2 separate regions of the Homo sapiens genome follow, and region 1 is linked to region 2. Evidence: fine-mapped expression QTL. Tissue or cell type: whole blood. Region 2 holds a variant in brackets; the other region holds the start of a gene. All regions are shown on one strand. Distances are from middle to middle.

Region 1 (8,101 bases), 54 kb after region 2:
TACCCACTCTACACCATGCCAGGGTTAGATGCTGGGATTCTGGCCCAGCCCACCACACTGCCAAGCCCATGGGGACACAGATGGTGAGGACATAGTGGTAACTACTTCACCAGTTATTGGGATTCAGAGCTGGGAGAGCACCAAGAAGGGAGCAATTCACTTCCTGGAAGTGAGGGGTGGGAGAGGCAATCTGAGAAGGCTTCTTGGAGGAGGTAGCATTTTGGCCAAGTTGAGAAGCCTGTATGGGAGTTCTCCAAGGAGGAAAAGATGCTTTGTTTTGTAGACAAAAACCTTCGTTCTGTGGAGTGTTTGGAGAAAAGTGAGGTACTGGTTGCTAATGTGTGTGATCCTGGGTGAGTTTGTGTGCATGGCCCCAGCCAGGCCAAGCCCTCCCCAGGTTCCAGTGACAGACCTGGGCCACTAAGGACCCTTAATTCCACCCTGAGCTCCTAGAAAACCACCCACTATTGGGCAGCCAGGAATGACCTTTGGAGAACAAACACTTCACCCTCCAGGTACCATCCACTTGTCCACCTGTTCATCCTCTTGGGGACTCAGTGGGAGGGCGACCCTGTCCCTAGGAGCCCATGTCCCTCCAGCAAATGTTTCTTTTATTTTTATTTTTATTTATTTATTTATTTTGAGACAGAGTCTTGCTCTGTCGCCCAGGCTGGAGTGCAAAGGCGTAATCTTAGCTCACTGCAACCTCTGCCTCCCAGGTTCAAGCAATTCTCCAGCCTCAGCCTCCCGAGTAGCTGGGATTACAGGTGTGCACCACCACGCCTGGCTATTTTTTGTATTTCTAGTAGAGACGGGGTTTCACCATGTTGGCCAGGCTGGTCTCAAACTCCTGACCTCAGGTGATCTGCCCACCTCGGCCTCCCAAAGTGCTGGGATTACAGGCATGAGCCACCACACCAGGTTTTTGTGGTCACGGAATGGTCTTGTGTGATGTTGGTGTCCTGGAAATTACTTTTGTTTGACAAGAGAACACCAAGACCCAGCTGTGAATGTCTGTCCAGCTCCCAGGGAAACAGAACAGGAACTGGACAGAGCTTCTCCTTCACATCCTTTCCCTTTTTCCTTCTTTTGTCCCACTGATCACAAAACCCACACCATTGCCTCGCTGACAATATAGCTGCTAACCCCGAGGCTTTAGTCATACAAAGAAAATAAAGAACGAAACTGTCTCAAAAAAAAAAAAAAAAAAAAAAGAATTCCAGAGACTGGCCTTAGGAGATCCAAATATCAAATGAAGCTTGCGGAGTGTCCCACCTCGGGAAGGAATGCTGAACAATTGATTGACACCCTTGTTGCCACCAGCCAGACTACCAGGTGACTCATTACTTAAGATAACCATCGCAACCAGATATGCGACCTGCATACCCTCAAAACCAGATATGCGACCTGCATACCCTCACGTGCTTTGCCCAGCCCAGCCTGCATACCCTACCCCTGATGTCAATTCCCATGCTTTGCCTAATAAAAAAAATTCCCAGCCAGGCGCAGTGGCTTATGCCTGTAATCCCAGCACTTTGGGAGGCCGAGGCGGGCGAACCATGAGGTCAGGAGATTGAGACCATCCTGGCCAACATGGTGAAACCCTGTCTCTACTAAAAGACAAAAAATTAGCCGGGCGTGGTGGCGTGCACCTGTAGTCCCAGCTACTCGGGAGGCTGAGGCAGGAGAATTGCTTGAACCTGGGAAACGGAGGTGCAGTGAGCTGAGTTCGCACCACTGCACTCCAGCCTGGCGACAGAGCAACACTCTGTCTCACAAAAAAAAAAAAAATTCCCCACTGGCTCTTCCACAAGTCAGCTGGAGGATCCCTTCACTTCTGCTTCCATTGTCTTCCCTGCACTCAAGCACAAGCTCTGAAATAAATGCCTTGTCTGGGAAATCTGCTTGGATCCCTGTTAAGTTTCATTACAAGGGGAGCCAAACAGCCTATGGTCTGTAACACCAAATGTATGTGAGCAACAGCTTTTCTCTTTCTCTTTCTCTCTCTAATTTTTTTTTCTTTTTCTTTTTCTTTTTTTTAGACACAGAGTCTTGCTCTGTCACCCAGGCTGGAGTGCAGTGGCACGATCTTGGCTCACAGCAACCTCCATCTCCCAGTTTCAAGCTATTCTCCTGTCTCAGCCTCCTGAATAGCTGGGATTACAGGCACACACCACCACACCTGGCTAATTTTTGTATTTTTAATAGAGATGGGGTTTCACCATGTTGGCCATGCTGGTCTCAAACTCCTGACTTCAAGTGATCTGCCCATCTCGGCCTCCCAAAACGTTGGGATTACACGTGTGAGCCACCATGCCGGGCCTTTTCTGTTTCTCAATGTCAACTAAACAAAAAATCAGGCTTTTAAAAAATTAAGGTTGGTTTTTTGCAATCTTACTGAGGACTGTAACCAGGGAAAGTCTTTCACAGAGTTTGTTAAACTGCTCCAAAACAGAGTTTCAGCACACATTTATATATTTATATTTATATACAGTTTATATAAAAACATTTATATACAGTTGGTGGTGCCCTGCATGTGCTCAGAAGTTATATCAAGCTGGGCGTGGTGGCTCATGCCTATAATCCCAGCACTTTGGGAGGCTGAGGCGGGTGGATCACCTGATGTCAGGAGTTCGAGACAAGCCTGGCCAACATGGTGAAACTCCATCTCTACTAAAAATACAATAATTAGCCAGGCGTGGTGGCGTGCACCTGTATTCCCAGCTACTCAGGAGACTGAAGCAGGAGGATCACTTGAACCTGGGAGGCAGAGGCTGCAGTCAGCCGAGATTGCATCACTGAGCTCTAGCCTGGGGGACAGAGTGAGACTCTGTCTCAAAAAAAAAAAAAAAAAGTTATATCTAATGTGCTCAGAAGTTAACAATAGAGCAAAATTTCATCAAGGCTGTGTGTGAGGGTATTATCTAGTTACAGATTACAGAGGCTTGGCTGGGCATGGTGACTTAACACCTATAATTTCAGCACTTTCGGAGGCCCAGGCAGGAGGATCGCTTGAGCCCAGGAGTTCAAGACCAGCCTGGGCATCACAGCAACACCTTGTCTCTGCAAAAAATAAAAATAAAAAATTAACTGGGTGTGGTGGCATGCGCCTGTAGTCTCAGCTACTCAGGAGGCTGAGGTGGGAGGAGTGCCTGAACCCGGGAGTTCAAGGCAGCAGTGACCTATGATCGAGCCCCTGCACTCCAGCCTGGGCAACCAAGCGAGACCCTGTCTCTAAAAAAAAAAAAAAAGTTATAGAAGCATAATCATTAATCCCGTCAGAGATTATGTACAGGAAGAGGCAGGGGCTAGGATCATTGAACTTGTCTTTTCTAAAAATGCAGTGTTCAGGCAAGAGAGGTGGAAACCTGTGTTCTCTCTCGCTCTTCCCAGCTTATTGTTCAGGGCGTTATTGGAGAGGGCTGCGCTCAGTCACCGAGTCACGGCCTTTGTGAAATCCTGCTCGCAAGCAGAATGAGCAGACATGGTTCCTTAGGTTTATTACTGTGCCTCACACTACGAGACGGTCATTCATTGGCAGAGGTGTATTTGCGGGGGGCCAGGTATAGAGTAATTCAAGGCGGACAAAGGAGGAATGTCCCAGTCTTCAGGAAGCTCAGTGACATGTTTGCGCTGTCTTATGTAAACAGGAGATTGTCAGAAATGGAGGAGGGGGCACCAGATCCAAGGAAGTGCCCGGACAAAGCCGGGAGGCGAGGAGAGCCGACGGGGAGGAGGTGCCGAGAGCATCAGCGGGGCTGCTCGGTGGCACGAAGACGCCCGCGGGGACTGGAGAGGTCGGCTAGGGCCAGGCTACTCAGGCACGGAGGGCCACCTCCCCTTCAGGGACGTGAGCATCTAGCTGCACTGATTTGTTGTTCAGGAACAGGAAATGAAACCCCGCAGCTTTGAACACAATAACCCACGCCAGCCTCAGGCTCATGAATATTCAGCAGGCTGCTTGCGCCTTGCAACCCCGCCTCCGTTCCCCTCTGCGGAGACTGCGTATGCGTCGCCGGCGCGCGGCTGTGTCGTCATACTTGCGCGCCGACGCCGCCGCTCGCTTGTGAAACTGGAAGGCTGCCATGGCTAGCCCAGCCGCCTCCTCGGTGCGACCACCGAGGCCCAAGAAAGAGCCGCAGACGCTCGTCATCCCCAAGAATGCGGCGGAGGAGCAGAAGCTCAAGCTGGAGCGGCTCATGAAGAACCCGGTGAGACGAGGCCCAGGCTCCACGGCCCGTCCGAGGCCCACCCCCTTCCTCTGCAGCGCTTCAGGGTTCCCGCAGGTCCACCTTCCCCGCCTCCAAACTCAGAAACTCAGTATCCGACCCTCCAAGAGCAGTCTTTGGGGAGGAGGAGGAGAAGGAGGCTGTCCCGGAGATAGTGAACTTCCCGTCTGTCCTTGTGTGAGAGCCCAGCTTGAATCAAAGCACGGTGGAGCGGCTTCCCGTGCTCCAAGACCCCTTCTGGTTTAACTTTCTGTGAACAAAAAGCGTTAGACTGAAAAGGTAGAATTTGTGGGTTAGCAAAAGGGTATACTCTAAACAACACTGATCGTTAGAGAGACAGTGGCCGAGACGTTTGGAGCTGGTCACTCCTCTCCCGCTCACACCCCCTCTGGGCCTCGGTCCCCTCAATCATAAAAACAATTGAACGGGAACGTCCTTTATACCTTTAACTAGAAAAGCTTGACTCTTCTTATCTAGTAGTGTTAAAGTTGGCGGTTTCTAGCTGGAAACTATGGCTTAGGTTTTTCAGTTCTGCTCTGGAAAGCGTAGCCCTGGGAAGGTGTGGACTGTGTTATACCCAAGAGTACATAGGATGAAAAAAGCCACGACAGAGGGAAGAACACAAAATCAGCTCTGTGTCCAAGTAGCAAAGCAGTCCTGCTTCATTAGTCAATTAAAATTCTTTGGTCTTAAGAGATGTAACTTGGGCTGGGTGCTGTGGCCCCTGCCTGTAATTTCAGCGCTTTGGGAGGCCAGGCGGGAGGATGGTCCGAGGCCAGGAAGGAGTTCAAGACCAGCCTGGGCAACATAGTGGGTCCCTGTCTTTACAAAAATAAAAAAATTGCCTGGTGTGGTGGTGTACGCCTGAGAGTCCTAACTATTCTGGAGACTGAACCGGGAGGATCACTTGAGCCCAGGAGTTCAAGGCTGCAGTGAGCTCTGATTGCACCACTGCACTCCAGCCTGAGGAACAGAGCAAGAACCTGTCTCTAAAAAAAGAGAGGGAGATATATAATTTTGTCAACAGGTTTATACTTAAATGCTTTCATGTTTAAATGTTGCAGGACAAAGCAGTTCCAATTCCAGAGAAAATGAGTGAATGGGCACCTCGACCTCCCCCAGAATTTGTCCGAGATGTCATGGGTAATGGCTGTGTGTGTGTGTGTGTGTGTGTGTGTGTGTAAATATAATTTTTTAAGGTAGCTATAGGCTGGGCGTGGTGGCTCATGCCTCTAATCCCAGCACTTTGGGAGGCCGAGGCGGGCGGATCATGAGGTCAGGAGATCGAGACCATCCTGGCTAACACGGTGAAACCCCGTCTCTACTAAAAATACAAAAAAAATTAGCCGGGCGTGGTGGCAGGCACCTGTAGTCCCAGCTACTTGGGAGGCTGAGGCAGGAGAATGGCGTGAACCCAGGAGGCGGAGCTTGCAGTGAGCCGAGATGGCGCCACTGCACTCCATCCTGGGCAACAGAGCGACATTCTGTCTCAAAAAGAAAAAAAAAAGGTAGCTATAAAAATCCTGTAGTTGGTATTTGTTAAATCTCTGATGAGGGGAAATGTGTGTTCACATGTTCGTGTTTTGCTTTTACAATGACGGGGATATAGTTGCTTTTATTTGTTTTTCATTTGACATTGGTAAATTTAGCTTAAGGGCTATAGTTGCTTATGGTTTGGCACTATAGAATTTTCTCCTGCAGTATTGCGGTTTTTTTTGTTTTTGTTTTTGTTTTTGTTTTTCTTTTGGAGACAGAGTCTCACTCTGTCACCCAGGCTGTAGTGCAGTGACACCATCTCGGCTCACTGCAACCTCCGCCTTCCGGGTTCAAGCGATTCTCCTGCCTTAGCCTCCTGAGTAGCTAGGACTACAGGCCCGTGCCACCATGCCTGGCTGATTGTTTTATTTTTAGTAGAGACTGGGTTTCACTATGTTGGCCAGGCTGGTCTTGAACTCCTGACCTCAGGTGATCCGCCCGCCTCAGCCTCCCAAAATGCTAGGATTACAGCTGTGAACCACAGTGCCCGGCCATCTCCTGCATTATTCTTAATAACGCATTGTGGTTTTTTTGTAAATAAAAATAGTTTTATTATTTTGTTGGATCATAAATTAACATATCTACAGGCTTACCATGGAGATGGTGCGGGTTTAGTTCCAGGCAACCTAGTTAAAGTGAATGTCGCAATAAAGGGAATCATGTAAATTCTTTAGTTTCCCACTGCACATACAAGTTTTCTTTATACTCTACTGTAGTTTAATGTGCAATAGCATTATGTCTTTAAAAAGCAACATAGGCCAGGCACGGTGGCTCGTGCCTGTAATCCCAGCACTTTGGGAGGCCGAGACAGGAGAATTGCTCGAGTTTGAGACCAGCCTGGGCAACACAGGAAGACCTCATCTCTACTAAAAATGTAAAAATTAGCCAGGCATAGTGGTGCATGCCTCTGGTCCCAGCTACTTGGGAAGCTGAGGCAGGAGGATGGCTTGAGCCCAGGAGGTTGAGGCTCCAATGAGCTGTGATTGCGCCACTGCCCTCCATCTTGGGTGACAGAGCAAGGCCCTGTCTCAAAAAAAAGAAAAAAGCTGAAGAAAAAACACTTTTACAAAAATATGATTGTTCTACATATACAACTTTGTAAGCACCTTTATTTCATTTAATGTATCATGGATGTCTTTTCAACTCACTAGAAATTTAGCGTGTCAAATGTGAAATCATGGAGGAGGTGAGAAAGTCACTTAACCACAGTCTGCCCCTCCTGATACTGCATTTGAGTGGGATTTTTAGTGACTTTACATTCAACATTCATAGAACAAATAATTCACGACATCTACAATATGCCAGGTACTGGGCCAGTTCTGGATACAGTGGGGAGAAAGGAAGGCATGGTCCCTTCCACGACTTCCACTTTTTGTTTCTTTAGTCACCCTCGATTAAGGGTGACCTGTGTTGGTAACTGAATTTCATCTAGAACTGTGGACTGTTCTGGCTACAGGTTCAAGTGCTGGGGCCGGCAGTGGAGAGTTCCACGTGTACAGACATCTGCGCCGGAGAGAATATCAGCGACAGGACTACATGGATGCCATGGCTGAGAAGGTCAGTGAGCCAGAAGGCTGGCTGAGCCCCCATGTTTGGGCAGTGTGCGTGTACTTTCTTTAGAAAAAAGCATTTGAAGAGGCTGGGCGTGGTGGCTCAGGCCTGTAATCCCAGCACTTTGGAAGGCCGAGGCAGGGGATCACCTGAGGTCGGGAGTTTGAGACCAGCCTGACCAACATGGAGAAACTCTGTCTCTACTAAAAATACAAAATTAGCCAGGTGCATGCTTGTAATCCCAGCTACTCAGGAGGCTGAGGCAGGAGAATCTCTTGAACCCAAGAGATGGAGGTTGCAGTGAGCCAAGATCGTGCCATTGCACTCCAGCCTGGGCAACAAGAGCGAAACTCCATCTCAAAAAAAAAAAAAAAGAGAGAAAAGAAAAGAAAAAAGCGTTTGAGGAAGAATAGATACTGCTAGTTGTGGCTGGTGTGAGGTCTGCCTTCTACGGACAGCACAAAATGCAGAGTCTCTACTAAAAATACAAAACCCCGTCTCTACTAAAAATACAGAAATTAGCTGGGCGTGGTGGTGGGCAACTGTAGTCCCAGCTACTTAGGAGGCTGAGGCAGGAGAATTGCTGGAACGTGGGAGGTGGAGGTTGCAGTGAGCCTAGATTGCACCATTGCATGCCAGCCTGGGCGACAGAGTGAAACTCCATCTCAAAAAAAGGAAAAAAAAAATAACACCAAGAAATAATCATAAAATATTGTAATATTTAGCCATAAAAAGGAACAAACTACTGATCTGTACAGCAACTGGGATGAATCTTTAAACATGGT
Region 2 (8,101 bases):
GTATTTTTTTTTTTTTTTTAGACAGAGTCTCACTCTGTCACCCAGGCTGGAGTGCAGTGGCACAGTCTCAGCTCACTGCAATCTCTGCCTCCCAGGTTCAAGTGATTCTCGTGCCTCAACCTCCTAAAGAGCTGGGACTATAGCGTGCACCACCACTCCTGGCTAATTTTTGTATTTTTAGTAGAGATGGGGTTTTGCCGTGTTGCCCAGGCTGGTCTGGAACTCCAGGCCTTAAGTGATCTGCACTCCTCGGCCTCCCAAAGTGCTGGAATTACAGGCATGAGCCACCGCACCCTGCCCTACATATACATTTTAATTATAATATCTTTTGGATTCTTTAAAAATTTTAAAAAATTTTTTAATTCTTTAAAAAATTCTTTAAAACAATTTTATTTGAAGAGTAATAACAAAACAAATCTCTATTTGTGAATAAATAAACCTTGAGATCATTTATGGTTTTGCAATTCAACCTGAAAAATGAAATCAAAGCTTTTATCAAAACAAAGCATGTTTAGTGCTCTCTGTCTCACTGTCTTTTAGATGCCAAACCTTAGATTTTATGATGACTCCTCAACCGTTTAGATCTTGGTTATCTCAGAGGGATCATCAGCTTTTTAAGAAAGTTTTGAGAGAAAAGCAAGTGAAGAAAAGCGTAGTCAATGCTCAACATCACGGGTCTCTCACTGAACACACCACGCCTGGTATTCTCTCACAGCGATGTCACCATTTCTACCTGCCACGCATCGGCGAAGGTTGGGACTCGACTGGTGTTTGATCACTATGGGAAAATCATCCAGAAAACCCCCTACCCCCACCCCAGAGGGATGACAGTCAGCGTGAAGCAGTTATTTTCTACACTACCTGTGCGCCATAAGGAATTTCAAAGGAATATTAAGAAGGTACAGTAAATTAATCCTGGTTTTCAAGAGTATTGGTTAATGCACATGAGCAAAAGATTTACTAAAGATGTTTATTCTTCAGTTGATACTCTTGCCATAATCTATTGAGAAATGCTTTATTTGCATTTCTCGTTAAAGACTTAACATTAAAGACTTAACTTAGGGTGATTTACTTTTTTCTTTTCATCACATAGTGTTTATTAGGACTGGGCAACATAGTGAGACTCTGTTTCTATGAAAAATTAAAAAAAAAATTGACTGGGCATGGTGGCATCCACCTGTAGTTCCAGCTACTTGGGAAGCTGAAGTGGGAGATTCACTTGAGCCCAGAAACTTGAGGCTGCAGTGAGCTATGATTGCACCACTGTATTTCAGACTGGGAGACAGAGTAAGACCCTGTCTGGAAAAATATATATACATATATATATTTTATTTTTATTTTTTATTTTTATCTTTTTTTGAGATGGAGTCTCACTTTGGCGCCCTGGCTGGAGTGCAGTGGCACGATCTCGATTCACTGCAACCTCCACCTCCCGAGTTTAAGCGATTCACCTGCCTCAGCCTTCTGAATAGCTGGGATTACAGGCGCGCACCACCACACCTGGCTCATTTGTTTATTTTTAGCAGAGACGGGGTTTCACCATGTTGTCCAGGCTGGCCAGGCTGGTCTCGAATTCCTGACCTCAGGTGATCCGCCCACCTCGGCCTCTCAAAGTGCTGGGATTATAGGCGTGAGCAACCATGCCTGCCTTATGTACTTATATTTTAATGAGACTATTTCTCTTGGTTTTCTGATAAATGAGTTACTGGAACCCTTATGAATCTGAATGCAAAAGAAACAGCTAAATGTTATGTAATTGTTGTGTTTAAAAACCAGATTATAAAACTATCTGTATTATATGATTACAGTTTAATAAAAACAAAACAACGGCCTAAATGTGTATAGTATAAAGGCTGGAAGAGTCAGCACTTTCATGTTCTCAGCGGTTATCCTTGGATGTGAGATCTCATGCACTTTTTGCTCTCTTCTTTGTGCCTTTCCATTTTGTATGTGTATTTTTTACAATCTAAAAAGTTACTTAAACATATGCAGCTAAAAACTTTTTTTACTCGTAAAGCATTTGGTGCTAATTTTAACTGTTCTTTTTTTAGACAGAGTCTTCTCACTCTGTTGCCCAGGCTGGAGTGCAGTGGTGTGATCTTGGCTCACTGCAACCTCTACCTCCTGGGTTCAAGTGATTCTCCTGCCTCAGTCTCCCAAGTAGCTGGGATTATAGGTATGTGTCACCATGACCAGCTAATTTTTGTATTTTTAGTAGAGATAGGGTTTCACCATGTTGGCCAGGCTGGTCTTGCACCCCTGACCTCAAGTGATCTGCCTGCCTCAGCCTCCCAAAGTGCTGGGATTACAGGCATGAGCCACCACACGTGGCCTTTTTTTTAAAGCTTTTTTGTAAGTCAGCTAGCAAGAACACAGGAAGAAATACTCAAATCTCCCTTACCCAGCTGGGGGCTATGTCAGGTTTTATAAGCATAGGGTAATGAGTTGTGATTTGATTGGATCTTGCAATAAAGTAATGCTGGGAGGTGTGATCTGACTGGATCCTGCCATGGGATGACACCAAAACTCAATCTGATTGGATCCTGGCTCCTGCCATGGAGTGTCCAGTTCTTAAATCAGTCTCAGCTCTTCAGGCCGAGCTCTTAGGTTCCACTCCGTGGTTGCATGCTTGGTTAACCTGGGCATGCACAGGGTACATGCCCTTCAACCTGTGGGTCCATGGCAATTGAAAAACAACTGACAACCTCATTACATAAAAGTTGAACTGAGCCGGGTGCAGTGACTCACGCCTGTAATCCCAGCACTTTGGGAGGCCAAGGCAGGTGGAGGTCAGGACTTCAAGACCAGCCTGGCCAAAATGGTAAAACCCCGTCTCTACTAAAAATATAAATGTTAGCCAGGTGTGGTGGTGCACCCTTATAATCCCAGCTATCTGGAGGCTGAGGCAGCAGAATCACTTGAACCTAGGAGGTGGAGGTTGCAGTGAGCTGAGTTAGTACCATTGCACTCCAGCCTGGGTGACAAGAGTGAAACTCCGTCAAAAAAAAAAAAAAAGTTGAACCAGATTTGGTCTGATGCAGTTACAGATCTACAAACCTCACCCCCACCCTTCTGCCAACACCTTCCACTCCTCATTCTTGAGGGATTAGGGATGGAGGTCATGCTTCTGCTTCGACTTCATGCTGAGCAGGGCACTGAGTCCCCTAAAGTGAAAGGAATGAAACTCCTGGGCTTCTGAGTTCAAATGAGTTCTGGGGTCACCCGGAGTAGCTTGAAAGGCTGGTATTGTTGTAATACAAGCTGAAGGTGGAAGTGTTGGATCCTGGAGAACAAACAGCTCACCATCCATTTAAATAAATAGGACCAAAAAGTAACAGAACAGTGGCCACGAGGGGCCCCAACAGAGGAAGAAACCAGGTGAGGTGCGGTATAGTGGACTCGACTGCCTTCTAAATCTCAGTTGTTGGCTGGGTGCGGTGGCTCACACCTGTAATTCCAGCAAAAGAAAAGCCGAGGCAGGGTGATCACGAGGTCAGGAGTTCAAGACCAGCCTGGCAAACATGGTGAAGCCCTGTCTCTACTAAAAATACAAAAATTAGCTAGGCATGGTGGCATGTGCTGTAGTCCCAGCTACTCGGGAGGCTGAGGCAGGAGAATCGCTTGAACCCGGGAGGCGGAGGTTGCAGTGAGCCGAGATTGTGCCACTGCACTCCAGCCTAGGTAACAGAGCAGGACTCCATCTCAGTCAATCAATCAATCAATCAATCTCAGCGGTTGAACTACCCTTGACATGGTTCAGCTCTGTATCCACACCCAAATCTCATGTCAAATTGTAATTCCCAGTGTTGTGGGAGGGACCTGGTGGGAGGTGATTGGCTCATGGGGGCCGACTTCCCCCTTGCTGTTCTCGTGATATTGAGTGAGCGCTTGTGGGATCTGGTTGTTTAAAAGCGTGCAGCCCTCCCACTTCACTCTCTCTGTCTCTCCTGCTCCAACATGGCCAGACGTGCCTGCTTCCCCTTCGCCTTCTGCCGTGATTGTCAGTTTCCTGAGGCCTCCCCAGCCACGCTTCCTGTACAGCCTGCAGAACTGTGAGTCAATTAAACCTCTTTTCTTCATAAATTACCCAGTTTCTCATAGTTCTTTATAGCAGTGTGAAAACAGACTAATGGACCCTTCTGGTTGAAGGAATGCAGCCATTCTGCTTGTTTGACTATGTCCTTTCTATTCATCTCTATTTCCTGGGAGGTGTTTATCCAAGTGCAATAGGAGGTATTGGTGACTGCACAGTCCCCTCAGTGTTCTGCTAGTAAATAGTTGAAGGTTGATCATTGATCTCCTGCGTTTTCAGTCTGGCATGGAAAAGCCCCCATGCAACTGGTAGTAAAGATATCAATAAGCACCAGGAGGTATCTAAATCCACCAGGAGCCATAGGCATCACGTTGACGTCCATTTACCAGTCTTCCCTGGCAAGATTCTTCTGAATTGTGCTGCCTTGGCCAAAAGAGGTGTGGGAGGGGCTGGGCGCAGTGGCTTGTGCCTGTAATCCCAACATTTTGGGAAACCAATTCAGGTGGATCATTA[G/A]AGGTCAGGGGTTCAAGACCATCCTGGCCAACATGGTGACATCCCATCTCTACTAAAAATACAATAAGTTAGCTGGGTTTGGTGTTGGGTGCCTGTAATCCCAGCTACTCGAGAGGCTGAGGCAGGATAATCGCTTGAACCTGGGAGGAGGAGGTGGCAGTGAGCTGAGATCGTGCCATTGCACTCCAGCGTGGGCAACAAGAGTGAAACGTCGTCTCAAAAAATAAAAAAAAAAGTCCGGGCGTGATGGCTCACACCTGTAATCCCAGCACTTTGAGAGGCCAAGACGGGTGGATCACGAGGTCAGGAGTTCAAGACCAGCCTGGCCTAGATGGTGAAACCCTGTCTCTACTAAAAATACAAATATTAGCTGGGCATGGTGGCATGCACCTGTAATCTCAGCTACTCAGAAGTCTGATGCAGGAGAATTGCTAAAACCCAGGAGGGGGAGGTTATATTGAGCTGAGATTGCACCACTGCACTCTAGCCTGGGCGACAGAGCAAGACTCCGTCTCGAAAGAAAGAAAGAGAAAGGAAATTCCCCAGGGAAGTACCTCGGCTGATTTCATAAACAGGTACCGAAGGAAGCAGAGGCATGTGGAGGACTTCCCCACCTCGTGCAGCTATTTGGGCCGTGGCGTCTGAAATTTATTATTTCAGAGTCACCCCTTTGATGACCTTGGCAGTGAACTGCAGTCATCTGTTTAGGCCTTTCCATGGCCCACGTCAATGCCGTTATTTCTGTTTGTTGCACATTTGATTTCCTTGTTGTTGGCATTTAGAAGGCCCCCTGCTTCCCAGATCACACCACGGGCATGGACCACAGAGATTGCATCTTGTGAGTCTGTAGAAATGGTCAAGGCCTTGTCCTCTCTTAGGTCCAGAGCTCAGGTGAATGCAGATTTTCCCGGCCATCTGTGCTGAAGTCCCTGTGGGGAGGCTCCTGGCTGGTTTCCTGTAGGTAGACAGCTACACGTCCTGCCCTTCATTGGCTTCTTTTCATGAAGCTCCTGCCATCTACAAAACATGTCTCCCTTCTTGAATCACTTCTCTGTTATTGAAACTCTAGAAGTCAACCGGGCATGGTGGCTATGCCTATAATCCCAGCATTTTGGGATGCCAAGGCGGGTGGATCACCTGAGGTCAGGAGTTCAAGACCAGCCTGGCCAACATGGCGAAACCCCGTCTCTAATACAAATACAAAAATTAGCCAAGCATGGTGGCCACTGTACTCCAGCCTGGGCGACAGAGCAAGACTCTGTCTCGAAAAAAAAAAAAAAAAAAAAAAGAGAAAGAAAGTATCATGCTTTTCTGCATTCTGTGAATTGTTTTAGTGAGTTATCGAACTTGAGGGCATGGTGGGAACCTCCAAATTTGCAGCCAGTTGGTGAGAAGTACATGTGGTCTGAGGACACCCAAGCCTGCAGGTGTGTCTAAAGCGAGGGCAGCCTAGTAGGGGCTGGTGGCCTTAACCTGTGGCATTTGAGGTAACATCAGGGAGTTGACATCAGAATTGCATCACATAGGCTGGGCGCGGTGGCTCACACCTGTAATCCTAGCACTTTGGGAGGCCAAGGCGGGCAGATCACGAGGTCAGGAGATCGAGACCATCCTGGCTAAGACAGTGAAATCCCGTCTCTACTAAAAATACAAAAAATTAGCCAGGCATGGTGGCGGGCGCCTGTAGTCCCAGCTACTTGGGAGGCTGAGGCAGGAGAATGGCGTGAACCCAGGAGGCGGAGCTTGCATTGAGCCAAGATCACGCCACCGCACTCCAGCCTGGGTGACAGAGCGAGACTCCATCCCCCCCCCAAAAAAAAAAAGACCAAAAACAGAATTGTGTCTCAGGCCAGATGCAGTGGCTCATGCTTATAATCCCAGCAATTTGAAAGGCAAGGTAAGAAGATCGCTTGAGCTTGAGTCTGAGGCCGCAGTGAGCTATGACCACACCACTGCACCCCAGTCTGGGTGACAGCGCAAGACCCCAACTCCAAAAAGGAAAAAGAAAAATCACAAAGAATTGCATGTCAGAGTGCCTGTCTTTCACAGCTTTAACTGCTGCAGGAACGAACTTTTTTTTTTTTTTTTTTTTTGAGAGGGTGTGAGGAGACACAATCTCTGCTAGTGATTCTCCTGCCTCAGCCTCCCAAATAGCTGGGATTATAGGCGTGCACCACCACGCCTGCCTAATTTTTGTATTTTTAGTAGAGACAGGGTTTCACCATGTTGGCCAGGCTGGTCTCAAACTCCTGCTGGGATCATGGGCGTGAGCCACCACGCCCGGCCACCTTTAGAGTTTTCTTACCACCTGGTTTTCCTCTCTCAATATCTTTCTCTCATTTCCTGCCTTAAAACTCTAGCTTGGCATCTGGGCGCAGTAGCTCATGCCTGTAATCCCAGCACTTTGGGAGGCCGAGGTAGGTGGATCACTTGAAGTCAGGAGTTCGAGACCAGCCTGGCCAACATGGTGAAACCTTGTCTCTACTATTTTTACAAAAGTTAGTCGGACGTACAGACGGGTGCCTGTAGTCCCAGCTACTTGGGAGGCTGAGGCAGGAGAATTTGTTTGAACCCAGAGGTGAAAGTTGCAGGGAGCCGAGGTTGTGCCACTGCACTCCAGCCTGGGAGACAGAGCAAGACTCTGTCTCCAAAACAAACAAACAAACAAAAAAACCCTGTAGCTTGGGATCAGCCTTCTCTTCTATTGTTTTTCTTTAAAAAATAAAAATTAAAAATAGATGTAGATGCTATGTTGCTGAGGCTGGCCTCAAACTCCTGGCCTCAGGTGATCCTCCCACCATGACCTCCAAAACCGCAGGGATTGTAGGTGTGAGCACTGCACCCAGCCTTATGTTTTTTTCTACATAAAAAACAGCACAGGATTATCTTCCAGAGCTAATAAATATGTTCAAATAACCACAACCCCATTAAGGAAAAATATCACTGGGCAGCAAATAATCAATCCAGACCAATATGATCACAATTGCTGTGAAGGTGAGAAAAGTTCATTTTTATTATGTTTCCCCAAGAGACCCACTCTATTGTTCTCTTGAAAACACACAGCTCATGTCCTCCTTTAGAACACACATTCTCTTTAAAGTAATATACAAACATGCCAAAACAAGGTAAAAAATTACATCTGAATTCTCACATTTCAAACATATATGAAATATCAAATAAAAATTTATTTTTACAAGAATTTAGGGGAACTACTACATAGCTATAAATGTAATATATATGTTAACTAAGTATCATAGATAAAATCCATGCTCCCTTCAGCAGCACGTGTAATAATAGATACAAAGATTGAAAGGTAAAAGATTTAGGATGAAAAGAATCCTCTCTTAAAAAGGAAAACAAAATTATATGTATGTGTATATAACAGTTATAATACCCATCACACAGCTTTGTAGAAACAGCATCTATTCAAAAATACCAGTATTTCCAAAATATTTAAAATAATATTTAATGTAAAAATAATATTTAAATAAATAAATATATTTAATAAATATTTAAATAAATAAAATAATATTTAAATAATTCTATACCCATGTT

What was found. PIP is the estimated chance that this variant, and not a neighbour inherited with it, causes the effect.
Region 1: PRKRIP1 starts here. The variant in region 2 is fine-mapped to the expression of PRKRIP1 in whole blood (TOPMed, PIP above 0.99).

The regions. Positions count from the first base shown.
Region 1 is chr7:102,392,327-102,400,427 of GRCh38, forward strand. PRKRIP1 (PRKR interacting protein 1) reads left to right here and starts at 4,037. Exons shown (of 6, transcript NM_024653.4): 1 at 4,037-4,211; 2 at 5,294-5,372; 3 at 7,222-7,322. The coding sequence starts at 4,086. It overlaps LOC100630923 (LOC100289561-PRKRIP1 readthrough), which reads left to right. Exons shown (of 9, transcript NR_038967.1): 5 at 5,294-5,372; 6 at 7,222-7,322. RefSeq lists a silencer at 3,893-3,972 and enhancers at 3,993-4,232, 4,014-4,555.
Region 2 is chr7:102,338,217-102,346,317 of GRCh38, forward strand. SPDYE6 (speedy/RINGO cell cycle regulator family member E6) reads right to left here. Exons shown (of 8, transcript NM_001146210.4): 8 at 7,530-8,101. It also overlaps the pseudogene PMS2P12. Among named protein-coding and RNA genes, the nearest start is that of SPDYE6, 14 kb to the right of the region's middle. The variant G/A (reference allele first, on the strand shown) is at 4,547.